4 linked regions of the Homo sapiens genome follow. The protein of the gene in region 2 interacts with the protein of the main gene of each other region in a pairwise test. Each region holds a gene or a part of one and is shown on either strand. Other genes may lie near its edges.

The links.
Region 1: the proteins of L3MBTL2 (region 2) and BIVM interact in binary tests that used the Homo sapiens proteins (3 or more experiments, as listed by UniProt).
Region 3: the proteins of L3MBTL2 (region 2) and SSUH2 interact in binary tests that used the Homo sapiens proteins (3 or more experiments, as listed by UniProt).
Region 4: the proteins of L3MBTL2 (region 2) and RBAK interact in binary tests that used the Homo sapiens proteins (3 or more experiments, as listed by UniProt).

What each region holds. Positions count from the first base shown.
Region 1 is NC_000013.11:102,833,619-102,837,118, forward strand, and holds part of BIVM (basic immunoglobulin-like variable motif-containing protein), read left to right. Parts: intron 1-847; coding exon 848-934; intron 935-3,500. Other genes in the region: BIVM-ERCC5 protein, read left to right, coding at 848-934.
Region 2 is NC_000022.11:41,225,812-41,229,311, forward strand, and holds part of L3MBTL2 (lethal(3)malignant brain tumor-like protein 2), read left to right. Parts: coding exon 1-130; intron 131-850; coding exon 851-933; intron 934-1,277; coding exon 1,278-1,512; intron 1,513-1,707; coding exon of another isoform or gene 1,708-1,763; intron 1,764-1,992; coding exon 1,993-2,058; intron 2,059-3,500. UniProt on the Homo sapiens protein: Putative Polycomb group (PcG) protein. PcG proteins maintain the transcriptionally repressive state of genes, probably via a modification of chromatin, rendering it heritably changed in its expressibility.
Region 3 is NC_000003.12:8,634,799-8,638,298, reverse strand, and holds part of SSUH2 (protein SSUH2 homolog), read left to right. Parts: intron 1-2,441; coding exon 2,442-2,540; intron 2,541-2,894; coding exon of another isoform or gene 2,895-2,917; coding exon 2,918-2,999; intron 3,000-3,500. UniProt on the Homo sapiens protein: Plays a role in odontogenesis.
Region 4 is NC_000007.14:5,055,860-5,059,359, forward strand, and holds part of RBAK (RB-associated KRAB zinc finger protein), read left to right. Parts: intron 1-1,435; coding exon 1,436-1,562; intron 1,563-1,824; coding exon 1,825-1,920; intron 1,921-3,500. Other genes in the region: RBAK-RBAKDN readthrough, read left to right, coding at 1,436-1,562, 1,825-1,920. UniProt on the Homo sapiens protein: May repress E2F-dependent transcription. May promote AR-dependent transcription.

The DNA.
Region 1 (3,500 bases), on a different chromosome or scaffold from region 2:
AGCCAGGATGGGTTATTTGGGGCTGGAGGCCATGTGGCTTTGGAGTCCCACTCAAAGGCCCCTCGGGTTTGGGGAAGAGAGGGATTCTGAGACAGGTTGGAATGACCTGGGAGAACCAGGAAGCTGGAAGTTGTGTTTTGTGAATAAGGAGCAAGAGGGAACTCTCTTGTTCTCTCCCAATGCTGAAATGCTTTATTCATCTTTCTGGAGGTGGAATTTCTTGTAAGTGAGGTATACTGTATGTTTCTTTTATGATTTCATCCTGCAGCTTCACCTTATTTCTGACATTTATCAAATATAAATCATGGTTTTAAACCAACTTTGTACCCTTTAAAAGAGAGTCCCTCACTTCTGCCTGTACCTAAGAATCATGTGAGATTTTCTTAAAAAACTATATAAATCCCCAGGCTCTACTCCAGACCTATTTGAATTAGAATGTCCAGGGATGGGTTTAGGACATCAGTGTGTTTAAAGACTTCATTGCTTTAGGGTTTCATTTTTAGGATGCGTTTTGAGATGTCTTGAATTCATAGTGAAAGGAGAAGAGTAGTGGAAAAATGCAGATAGCATTCCAGGATTTTTTTTTCCTCCTAGAATTTTAGAGGTGGTATATTAAAACATTTTATAGCCCTAGATTTTGAATAGAGGATTAAGGCTGAAATTTTAATTTGTGAGTTCTCTTTAATGGCCTGTAGAAATTTGCCCTCACCTAAGCTCTAATGTCTGTTCTTGATGAATGAATGCCAGGTTTGAATACACTCTAGTATGCCTTTTATTAATATATATTTGAAGCAATATACTCAAGGGAGTAACTATTAAACGTACTGTGAATGTATTTTATATTTAGCAGGGGACCTCTCTCACCACAGGAAGTTGAATATTGGATCTTAATTGGAGAATCAAGTAGAAAACATCCTGCCATTCACTGTAAAAAGTATGTTAACTTCCCTTTATTTTCTTTAATTGAGGTAACATTTAGATACAGTGAAATGCACAGATCTTAGTTGTATATAATTAGTTTGATAAATGAATGCACCTGTATAATCACCACCCAAACAGGATATGGTACACATTCATTGCCATGGAAAATACTCTCACTCTCTACTCCTATCAATCTCCATAGAAAGCCCCTCTTCTGATTTCTGTCACTACAGATTTGCTTTGCCTCTTCTTGAATTCCATGTAAAGAGAATCAGACAATATTATTTTTGCATCAATATCTTAAGTAACATTTTTGAGATTCCTCCATTGTGTCATGTGTATCAAGAGTTTATTATTTTTTTATTGCTGAGTAGTATTCTGTTGCATAAGCATGCTGCAATTTGTTTTCCATTTTCCTGTTGATGGGCATTTGGATTGCTTTGAGGTTTGGTCTCTTGTCAATGAAGCTCTTGGGAACATTCATGTACAAGCCTTGAAACAAATTATATAAAAATTTTATTAAAATATAATTCACATACCATAAAGTTCACTGCACCCACCATGCGCGGTGGCTCATGCCTGTAATCCCAGCACTTTGGGAGGCTGAGGTGGGAGGATCGCTTGAGCCCAGGAGTTCAAGGCCAACCTGGGCAACATAGTGAGACCCTGTCTCTACAAAAAAATTAAAAAATGAGGCAAGAGGATTGCTTGAGCCTAGGAGATTGAGGCTGTAATAAGCTGTGATCGTATCGCTGCACTCTCATCTGGGTGACAGAACGAGATCCTGCCTCAAAAAAAGGGAAAAAAGTGTACAATTCCATAGATTTTATTATAGTTACAGGGTTCTGCACCAATCACCACTATATAATTGCAGAACATTTTCATCACTCCAGAAAGAAACCCCATACCCCTTGGCAGTCACTCCGTATTCCCTGAGCCCTGGCAACCACTGATCTACCTTCTGTCTCTAGGGATTTGCCTATTCTTGTTTGTTTGTTTGTTTGGTTTTTTTAAGACAGAGTCTCTTTCTGTCACTTAGGTGGGAGTGCAGTGGTGTGATGTCAGCTCACTGAACCTTCATCTCCCAGGTTCAAGAGATTCTCCTGCCGTAGCCTCCTGAGTAGTTGGGCTTACAGGCGCCCACTATCACGCCCAGCTAATTTTTGTGTTTTTCGTAGAGACGGGGTTTCGCCATGTTGGCCAGGCTGGTCTCAAACTACTGATATCAAGTGATCCACCCTCCTCAGCCTCCCAAAGTGTTGGGATTACAGGCGTGAGCCACCACGCCTGGCTGGGATTTGCCTGTTCTTGACATTTCGTATAAATGGTGTCATACAGTATGTAGCATTTTGTACCTGGCTTCTTTCACTTAATACAGTGTTTTCAATGTCATCCATGTTTTAGCATGGATTAGAACTTCATTCCTTTATATGGCCAAATCATTTCCTTTGTATGGAGAAGTCACTTTTGTTGTACAAGTCTTTTAGAGGACATATGTTTTGTTCTCCTGGAAGACACCTAGGACTAGAATTGCTGATTCATAGTATAGATGTATATTTAAGAAACTGTGAGAAAATTCTCCAAAGTGGTTGTAAACCTTCTGATGAACAGAAGTTCTGATTCTAATTAATCTTAATTAAATTTATTTTATCAATTTTCTTCTTTTATATGTTTTGTGCCTCTATAAGAAATTTTTGCCTACCCCACGACCTCAAAGATGCTTTCCTGTTTTTTTCTAGAAGCTTTATAGATTTTATGTTTAGATTTCTGATCCCTTTCTATTATTGTTTTGAGACAGGGTCTCTCTCTATCACCCAGGCCAGAGAACAGCGGTGTGATCATGGCTCACTAAAGCCTCGACCTCCTGGGTTCAAGTGATCCTCCCATCTCAGTCTCCTGAGTAGCTGAGACCACAGATGTGTGCCCCCATGCCCTACTAATTTTAAAACTTTTTTGTAGAGACAGAGTCTTGCTGTGTTGTCCAGGCTGGTTTCAAACTCCTGGACTCAAGTGATCTTACTTCCTTGGCCTCCCAAAGGGCCGGGATTACAGATGTGAGCCACCATGCCTGGCCTTAATTACCTTTTGTGTGTGGTATGTGGTAGAGCTCAACTTTGATTTTTTCCCCCAGTGTTTATCTAGTTATTCTAGCACTATTTGTTTACAAAGATTTTCCTTTCCGTATTTAACTTCTTTGGTGCCTCTGCTGAAAACTGTATGTGTGGGCTGTTTCTGGACCCTGTCCTACTAATCTGTCTGTCCTTTTACCGATGCCACACTCTCAATTGTTGTTTATACTAAATCCTGAAATTAGATAGCACGAATTCTCTGAATTTTTCTTTTTCTTAAAGATTGTTTTGGCTCTTCTAGGACCTTGGCTTTTCCATAAAAATTTTAGAATTTGTCCTTTTAATTAGAGTTTGTAAAGATTTTGATGAGGATAGAATCTATAGAATTCATAATTTTGGCTGGGCGCGGTGGCTCATGCTTGTAATCCCAGCGCTTAGGTGGGAGGATCACTTCAGCTCAGGAGTTCGAGACCAGCCTTGGCACTATGGCGAAACCCCATCTCTACTAAA
Region 2 (3,500 bases):
CTGATGATCTGTGTGGACGGGGGGCCCTCCACAGATGGCTTGGACTGGTTCTGCTACCATGCCTCTTCCCACGCCATCTTCCCGGCCACCTTCTGTCAGAAGAATGACATTGAGCTCACACCGCCAAAAGGTAAGACTAGAGAGGCCACCACCTGCTGTCCTTGCCATCAGAAGGGGCAGGGTGTCCAGGCGCGGTGGCTCCCGCCTGTAATCCTAGCACTTTGGGAGGCCGAGGCAGGTGGATGACCTGAGGTCAGGAGTTTGAGACCAGCCTGGCCAACATGACAAAACCTCGTCTCTACTAAAAATACAAAAATTAGCCAGGCATGGTGACAGGTGCCTATAATCCCAGCCACTCGGGAGTCTGAGGCAGGAGAATTGCTTGAACCCAGGAGGTGGAGGTTACAGTGAGCCGAGATCATGCCATTGCACTCCAGCCTGGGCGACAGAGCAAGACTCTGTCTTCAAAACAAAACAGAAGGGGCAGGGTGTGGCCACAAGCCCAGATTCCTGGTCAAGTCAGGCCCCAGAAGTGTAGCATTTCAGGGTGTATGGGAAAGGTGACAGAGCCCACCACCAGCCCTTAACTGCTGGGCTGACCCTACCCCATGGCCAGTGTATGGTTGATGAACAGAGCTCCCACTTATCCCATTGGTCAGTGAACAACCTATACAACAGGACTGTGGTGCTAGAGCAGGTACTACCCTGAGGGGATGAGAAGAAGGCTGCTGGGGAGACTCCATGCTGGGTCCTGACCAAGCTGCAGAGCTTCTTCAGCCATGTGTCCTTTCCTCCTGCCCACTTCCTGCTTCCCCCTCTCCCTCTGCATCTGAGCTTTCTGCTCCTCCAGGTTATGAGGCACAGACTTTCAACTGGGAGAACTACTTGGAGAAGACCAAGTCGAAAGCCGCTCCATCGAGACTCTTTAACATGGTGAGGAGACTGAAGTGGAGCAAGGGGCCTGCGGTGGCCTCAGGACAGGCCCTGCCTGCTGCTGTCAGTGGTGGCAGTTCCTACTCTTTCTCTCGAATCTCTACTGCTGACATCAGCCACTTTCAGGGGGAAGTCCCCAGCTATGGCCTGGGCACTCCAGTCCCTCTTCCATGGAGGGCGGTACTGGGAGAGGTGCAGTGGGTTATTGTCTAGAGGAAGCTGCCCCAGCAGCCATTCCAGTCCCCGCCCCTCCCTGCCAGTTCTTCAAGTGCCTCCGGGCCGGGGCAAGCCTGCTGGGGTAGGGAGCTGACTGGCTTGGCCACTGCCTCCTTTTTCTGCCCCAGGATTGCCCAAACCATGGCTTCAAGGTGGGCATGAAGCTGGAGGCCGTGGACCTGATGGAGCCCCGGCTCATCTGTGTGGCCACGGTGAAACGAGTGGTGCATCGGCTCCTCAGCATCCACTTTGACGGCTGGGACAGCGAGTACGACCAGTGGGTGGACTGCGAGTCCCCAGACATCTACCCCGTCGGCTGGTGTGAGCTCACCGGCTACCAGCTCCAGCCTCCTGTGGCCGCAGGTGTGGGCTCTCGTGGCCCTAAGAGGCTCTGACTTTCTTTCCTCTTCTTTTTTCCTTCTTCCCCCGCCCCTGTGCCCATCTCCGTTCTTTGGCATGAGGTGGAGATGTCTCATGGACCACTTTAAGTAGAGAGTGAGCCCCGTCACCCAGCCCCTGCTCCTGACTTCTCTGTCTCCCTTTCCCTCTGGCCTGCAGAGCTCCTTCCTTCATCTTGCCCACTCTGTCATATGTTCGTGCCCTTGTGCACCCAGGTAAACTACCCAGGTCCCTCTGAGCAGCCCTGGTAACAAGGGTGGGAAGAAGGGACAGCTGTTCTCCGGCCCCTCCTCCAGCCCCGCCCTCTCCTCATTGCCCAGGTTTGGCTTCCTGTCTTGGGGTGTCTCGTGTGGGAGGGTGGATGGGGTCTCGGGATGCGCCTGTGCCCTGTGTCCTCCCAGGGACCCTCTTCTCATCTCTTTCACCCTTGTCTTTCAACAACAGAACCGGCCACACCGCTGAAGGCCAAAGAGGCCACAAAGAAGAAAAAGAAACAGTTTGGGAAGAAAAGTAAGTGCTGCACCGGTGCAGCCAGGCTGGTGTGGGCCTGGGAGCAGTGGGCCTGCGTCCCTGGGAGCAGGCGGGGGTCAGCCCCCAGGCACTGGTTCCCAGGTGCTGTCCTACTGACGTAGCTCTCTTCGTGTTCCTGTCCTGTCTCTTTCCCCTTGCCCTTTGGCCTACGGGCCTTTCACCCTGTCTCTGGGGACCCAGACCATAAATAGGGAGTGTTCAGTCTCTGGCCATGGTCAGGGTGCTGAGGAAAAGAGGTAAGAGATTGAGGTTGGGGGATCCCATCCCTGATGCCCCATGTTCAGAAAAAAACAGCCTGGCCTGGGCAAGCCGCAGCTGCTAGGTTCTAAAGGAAAAGCCACAGGAAGAAATAGAAGCTGTCTCTCCAAGGCTGTCATTCTTACCTCGAGACCTCTTTGAGGGTGGGAGAGGGTGGGAGCAAAGGCAGGCAGCTGAGTGGCAGGACTCCACCTGGCTCTCAGGCCGTGGGTGTCGTTTCCCTTGGTGGGGCCTCACTCTACAGATTCTGAGCCCAGCTTGGGTTCCACTTGAGGGGCAGAGCGGGAGCGGGCAAAGCCATCCTTCAGAGCCGCAGGCCTATGACAGCGAGGTGGGCTCCACAGTGTGGTACCATGTGGGGAAGAGGATGTTCTGAAACAGAAACAAGGTCCCTTGGGCAGGGTTAAGATTGAGTGAGGCGGCCAGGCGCGGTGGCTCACACCTGTAATCCCATCACTTTGGGAGGCCGAGGTGGGCGGATCATGAGGTCAGAAGTTCCAAGACCAGCCTGACCAACATGGCGAAACCCCGTCTCTACTAAAAATACAAAAATTAGCCAGGTGTGGTGGCAGGCGCCTGTAATCCCAGCTACTTGGGAGGCTGAGGCAGGAGAATCACTTGAACCTGGGGGCCGGAGGTGGCAGTGAGCCCAGATCGCTCCACTTCACTCCAGCCTGGGCGGAAGAGGGAAACTCCATCGCACAAAAAAAAAAAAAAAATTGAGTGAGGGTGTGGCATTTATCCAGCAGGCAGAGGCTCTGTACCATTCAAACGGTAGGACCGGGAATGGTGCATGTTGTGGGAAGAAATCAACAATCAAAAACGGGGGCTGAGTGTGATGGTTCACACCTGTGATCCCAGCACTTTGAGAGGCTGAGGTGGGAGGATCTCTTGAGCCCAAGAGTTTGAGACCAGCCTGGGCAACATAGCGAGACCCCTAATTTAAAAAAAATTTTTAATTAGCTGGGTATGGTGGCACAGGCCTGTAGTCCCAGCTACTCAGGAGGCTAAGGTAGGAGGATCACCTGAGCCTGGGAGGTCAAGGCTGCAGTGAACTGTGATCACCCCACTGTACTCAAACCTGGGTGACAGAGTGAGACCCTCTTCAAAAAATCTTTTTATTTAAAAAAAGATTTTAAAAAGCAGTTACAACCACGACTGCC
Region 3 (3,500 bases), on a different chromosome or scaffold from region 2:
GGTGTTCATTCGTCTTAAAGGCATCCCCTCCTTCCTCCACTGCTTGGGCCATGTATTTCAGGGCTACAGTCCAGCCCTGACCTTGATCTTTAATTCTGATAATGGAGCTGACAGAAACTACAGTGGACATGCATGGGCCTTCGCCCCAGAAAGGCTCAGGTTTCAGCCTCTACCTTTCTGATCCCCTCAAGCCCATTCCCAGGAGAATGTCTAAGTAGACACACAGGTGAGTGTCTAAGTCAGGGATGGGCCAAACGTGACTCCGAGGGCCAAATCGGACCCACCACCTATTTTCACAAATGAAGTTTTCTTGGAACGAAGCTTCTATTGTCTGGTTTTTGTTTTTATTAAACTTGAAGGGACAGGGTATATTATTTTTACTTTTGTGAAGGGAGAGAGCTACTACGGGCTTTAAATAGGTTCCTCCCACCAAACAAACAAACAAACAAACAAACAAACAAACAAGCTCTAGGAGATGGGGCAGTTCAGCTGGAAGTCTGCTCTGAGTTTGCTTCAGTGACTGAGACAGACGGTGTCCCCTTCCATGACCATTTCACAGGCACTATTTGAAGTCAACTCCTGTGACTGACTTGGCCACTAGACAAACAGAACCAAGGGATTCTTGTCTCCCAGTGTGAGGGGTTGTAGGAACAGTTTTAAAGGGGCGGCCCAGTGGGCTGGAACTAGACCTCTTGTTTCAGAGGCCTCTGGGACCTCTGTCCTGCTCTAACTCCACAGCTGTGTGACCTAGGATTACTGGAGTAATCTCTCTGAGCCTCATGTGCCTCATGTCAAGTGGGGTCAGAAGTGCTGCCTTCCACACCCCCAGGTGGGAGTGTGGGATGAGGCAACATGTGTGGGAAGGTGTTTCATGAACCTTCCAGTGCTTCAGGGGCCAGTTCTTATATTATGCTTTCCTCCTTGGCATCTCAGGGCCACCTGTATCTATGTCACACCCGACAGGCTAGGATGAGGTTTTGAAAACAGATACGTAGTGAATGATTTTTTCATAGTTTTGCCTCATGAAAAGTACAGATACTACTCCACCTACAGTGGGGTTATGTCCCAATACACCCATCATAAGTTGAAAATATCAGAAGTCAAGAAGGCGTTTAATACACCAGGCAGTGGTGGAGTGGGAGCTGTGGTTCACTGCCGCTGCCTGGCGTCACGAGAGTGTGTCATATTTTCTATTGCTAGCCTAGGAAAAGACCCATATTCAAAATTTGATGTTTGGTTTATAATGAATGCATATGGCTTTTGTACCATCATAAAGTAGAAAAATCAATAAGTCCAAACATCCTAAGTTGGGGACTGTCTGTACTTGGAAAGAACACGAACTTTGGAGTCAGACGAGTCTAGGTTTGAATCCAGCCCCACCCACCACTTGCTGGTTGTATGATCTTGGGCAAGTCACAACCTTTCTGAGCCTCAGTTTCCTCATTGGTGGAATGAGGGAAGGCGTTAGTGTACCAGTTTGGGTCACCCATGAAGCAGACACCAAGATGGCATTAGATGTGCAAGGGGTTTCTTGAAGATACCTGTGAAGAGAAAAGAGGAGGGAATGTCTTCAGACTGCAATGCAGGTCTGACGTTTGTGAAGGGAGAGAGGGAAGGAAGGAGATTAAGTAGGAGGAGTCTCAGACTCCATGTGGCTCCAAGAAAGTCTTGGTCAGGTCTGCTGGGAATCCCAGAGCAAAGATTGTCCACTGGAGGAAGCTGCATAACAAATGACCCCACATCTCGGTGCCTTAAAACAACAATGTTTTTATGTCTCATGATTTTATGGGTCAGGAATTAGGGTAGGGCTCAGGCAGGAGATTCTTCTGCTCCACGTGGTGTTGATTAGGGTCATCCAGTGGCATTCAGCAGGTGGCTGATATGGCTTGGAGGGTCCAGGATGGCTTTGCTGGTTTGGCGGGGATAGCTGGAAGGCTGGACTCAACTGGACCTCCTTCCATGTAGTCTTAGGGTCTCCTCATGGTCCCTCCAGCATAATAGCCTGACTTAGAGCTCAGGGTTCCAAAACAAATGCTCCATGAGGCAGAAGTAGCTGCAGTCTTTTAATGCTTCCACTGTGTTCTCTTGGTTGAGGCAGTCACATATCTTCCCAGTTTCCATGAAAGGAAAGCATCAAAGAATATGTGGCCATCTGTAATTCCACAGTGAATTACAGACTCATGAATGCAATAATGCATATTCACGGAGTAGGTACCCAGCAAATAGGAGCTGGCATTCTTGATGTTTCTCATCACTATTATTACTGCTGCTACTACCACCTGCCCTGCAGATGTATTCTGTGTCCTAAGGATGCCAGAGTGAGGCTGGCTTAAACGTGAGGCTTTTTATAATGCACCCGCCCTAATTTCTCAACTTCCTGTGAAGCCCTCATCAGCCCTCGCCTCCCTACCCAAGGCTTAGGAATGCTTGTCTTTCTGCAGGTGTGGTGGACCTCAGTTTTGAGGCCGAGAGTCCTCTGGCGCCCCCCACAGAGCTCCTGGAGAGACTGCCCAGCTATGACTGGCTTCTTCAAGGGGGCAGTAAGTTCCAAGAGGGCTTGGTTCTTTGGGCTTCTACCTAGGGCTCACGCTGGTTGGTGGGATGTCTCGGGAAAAAGGTGGTGCTGAGATAGCTCCCCTTTCCCTGGGGGGGCCCTGGGAAGCCCCTCATCTTGGGCAGGTGGAAAGAGGAAGCAATGGGGCATAGGCCTTCTGTCTATGAACAGTCCATGACTGCGACAGGTCCCACTAAGACCTAGATGGTGCTGGTCTTGGAGTCCCCATTCTTTTTGCATTAAATGCATCACTGTTTCTTCATCTGTTCTTTCTCACATTCAATCAGTCTTTCCTTCTTCCACCACACAAATATTTGTTCCTTTGGCCTGGGCTGTCCAGCCCCTGACTCTTCCCTTCTCCAGGAGGACAGATATTCTTCCCACCTTTGGAGGCCCCAGGGAGGCCCCAGGAGCAAAGGTCCTGGCCCTCGTTCCTGGAACACAGGTGAGTTTCAGGTTGTACTCTGTGACTGTGTGCATTTCCTATGTCACTATTGCCCCTTGAGGATCTCAGCCCTGGCAGTGCATCAGGATCCCTGGAGGGGGCCGTCTGCACCCCAGACCTACTGCACCAGATCCTCCAGGGATGGGGCTTAGGGATTTACATTTTACCAAGCTCTTCAGGTGGTTTGGCAACAAAGCCAGCGTTGAAAACCATAGTCTAGATCAGGGTTGCAAACTCCTGTCTGTGGGCCAAATCCAGTCCACTGCACATTTCTGGAGTAAAGTTTTATTGGAACACAGTTACACTCAATTGGCTGTGTATTGTCTCTGGCAGCTTTTACTCCAGAGCTGAGTAATTGAGACAGAGACTATGTGGGCTACGAAACCTCAAATATCACTATGTGGCCCTTTGCAGAAGTTTGCTGACCCTGGTCTAGATCCGCGGAAAGGCCCATATCCACCTTGTTTTGAGAGGACTCAGGGCCGAGCTCAGGGTTTCCAG
Region 4 (3,500 bases), on a different chromosome or scaffold from region 2:
CCACAGCCTAGCGGCCCTGCCTCTGCTATCTCTTGGGATCTACATGGTCCTAGCTGTATCACTGGATTTGAACCCCTTGTTGATATGTTCTTTATAAATAATAGGATAATGCAGCCTGCTTACTGGGCACTTCCTTTTTCTAAACTACAAGTTTGGGCAGGGCGTGCTGGCTCAAGCCTGTAATCCCAACACTTTGGGAGGCCAAGGCAGGTGGATTGCTGGAGCCCAGGAGTTTTGCATTTTTCTTTTTTTTTTTTTTTTTTTTTGAGACAAGGTCTCACTCTGTTGCCTAGGCTGGAGTGCAGTGTTGCATTCACAGCTCACTGCAGCCTTGACCTCCCAGGCTCAAGTGATCCTCCTGCCTTAGCCTCCCAAGTAGCTAGAACTACAGGCGTGTGCCATGATGCCCAGCCAATTTTTTTTTTTTAATTTATTTTTAGCAGAGATGAGGTCTTACTATGTTGCCCAAGCTGGTCTCGAACTCCTGAGCTCAAACGATCTTCCCATCTTGGCCTCCCAAAGTGCTAGGATTATAGGCATGAGCCACCATGCCCAGCCCCAACCACTTAAAAATTGAAGCTGCTTCCCGTTTGCCATTGGTACTTTGTACACCTCATCATATTCTTCTTCCCCTTCATCCCATAGAATGCACAATTCATCTTTAAAGACTTCAAGTTAACTGAGTCTGTGAAGCCTAATCTGATGGCATAAAATTAAAATAATTTGATCCTCTTTTGTTAAATCATTCTGCACCTTGTCTGCATTACTCTAATAACAGCTTTGGGCATTCATTCATTTAACGAATATTTATTGCTCCAAGATTGAGATGTTTGAGATAAAACTCAGCCATGCAGATAGCCAGAGGCCACTGGCTATGAGAATAAAAGAGCCAAAAGAACAAGGAGCTGAAACTAGGTGAGAGCCCCAGAGCAGTGAGTTAGGAGGAAGAGGACCAGGAGCTGAGTGGTGGGCACTCCAACATGAAGAGGTCCAGGGCAAGGGGAGGGCCTGGCAGCAAGGAAGACTAAAAGAAGTGACAAGGAGTAAAATGCTTGTGTTTGTTTACATGTTTATCTCCTTTTTAGGTTGTTCACTTTGGGAGCAGGCATGGTGTTTCACTCATCTCATGTCCCCAAAGCTCAGCTAGTTCACTTGCAAAATAGGAGCTCAGTTGTGTTTTGGGTTTTTATTTTTGTGGGGCAATATATATATATTTTTTATATATATTATATATATTTATATATATTATATATTTTATATATTATGTATTATAACCCCAAAGGATATGTGTTTCCAATATGATTTCCCTTCCATAATCTGTAACATAAAATAAGGTATACAATGTTTATGGTTAACTTTACCGGTGGGCTTTGTAAAACGTTATCCCCCTATCCCTTTTCCGTATCTCCCAATTCTGATCATGTTGCCATTACAGGGGCCAGTGTCATTCAAAGATGTGGCTGTGGATTTCACCCAGGAGGAGTGGCAGCAGCTGGACCCTGATGAGAAGATAACTTACAGGGATGTGATGTTGGAGAACTATAGCCATCTAGTTTCTGTGGGTGAGAATAGCTTGCTTTCTGAATGCTCTCAGTTGAATGGGGTTTTATCCTTGAGTTTGAAGAAATAAGTGATGACACCATTTAATTCCTTGTGGGCACTAGCTGGAGTGTTTATATTATTATTCATTGAAAGGTTCTAACTTTGATAAGGTAAAAAATGGAGCACTTCTGTTATGCAGCTTATGAGGTGGCAACATCTTGTACTTCAGAGATTCTGAAGCCAAGCAGCTTCCCCAAGTCCTCCTTCTTTTCCCATTAACAGGATATGATACCACCAAGCCAAACGTCATCATTAAGTTGGAGCAGGGAGAGGAGCCGTGGATAATGGGAGGTGAATTTCCATGTCAACATAGTCCAGGTAAGTTAGTAGCGTATCAAAGGTTAAAAAATGCTCATCCCAGACCTTTGGGAGAGACTAAAGAGTTGTTTATATGTATTCAGTACCCTCAGTAACACCTCCCAACCCCCAAATATCACTTTCCTTCCCGCACACATACATGAACTCTTTTGTTGATTTTACATTTGATTTACATTGGTAGGGATTTTTTCATTCTAACCGGTACTGGAGACCCATTCACTTCCTCTTTCTCCAGCATTATTGGTAACTTATTTACTCCCTTGCCATTACAGAATTGTTTTGGGTTTGTTTGTTTGTTTGTTTGTTTGTTTTGGAGACAGAATCTTGTTCTGTCACCCAAGCTGGTGTGCAGTGGTATGATCTCAGCTCACTGCAACCACCACCTCACAGGTTCAAGCGATTCTCCTTCCTCAGCCTCCCAAGTAGCTGGGATTACAGGCACATGCCACCACGCCTGGCTAATTTTTATATTTTTAGTAGACACAGGGTTTCACCATGTTGACCACACTGGTCTTGAACTCCTGGCCTCAAGTGATCTGCCCACCTCAGCCTCCCAAAGTGCTGAGATTACAGTCCTGAGGCTCCCGGCCTTACAGAATTGTTTTGTTTTGGGGCATTCAGAAGTCTGACATAAAAATCAACTTGAGACTTTTATGTTCATTCCTTTTATCTTCCATTTTCTTTCCTTCCTTGCTTTAAAAATACCTTGGACTTATTTTCTGCCCTCGATTTTATTTACTTCTTTAGGCATTCAGATACCAAAACCTCATCCTCCACCTATGCTTGTGAACTGAGTCACAGCTTGTGGTGTCTGTTATTTCCCAAAGTCCATGCTCAGTTGATGTGACGCTATAGCACTCCCTCAGCCTTCGTCTCTTTCCCCACTGCTCATGACCCGTCTGTGTGTTCATTTCCCCTTCCCCATAACTGGAATCATGCTCTGTCCATAGTAGACATTCAGGAAGTGTGAATTTCATAAGTGAATGTCGGTTCCTTTTCTTGCCTTTTCAGGACTGTCCCCCTAGGACCTGTTTTCCACTTTTTTGGTTTTCTTTGTATCCCTTAAAAGAGTTTATCTAATCTCACCTTCTAAGACCTTTTTTCCTGTGTATTTTTGCAGCTTGCCTCCAAATTGATACGTCTGACACTTTTAACCTGGAGTCTAGTTGAATATTTTACTTGACAACATAGCAGTTACCAGGGAGATAGTTCACTTCCTTCTTTCTCAGAATGTCTGATGATAAACTGTGCACATTCCAAAATCATGAATTCTGTCTACCTTCCTCACCTCCCAGTATTTGATTGTGCTAGTCTTGTCTCCATGGTTTGTGTTCTTTGTCTTCTGTGAAATGCCTGGCAGAGCGTCAGCACATTCTGTTTCTTTCGACATTCGTGTTCAGTATTCTCCCATACCTGGATTTCAGTGGATCCATCTTCCATTCAAATGATCATTGTCCTTTTCCTTCATCTGCATTTTACTTGCCCACATAATACATATTTTCCCTCCCTTTCTTCCTCTCCTCCCTCTCTCCCTTCCTTCATTCCTTCCTTCCATTTTGAGACAGAGTCTCACTCTTGTC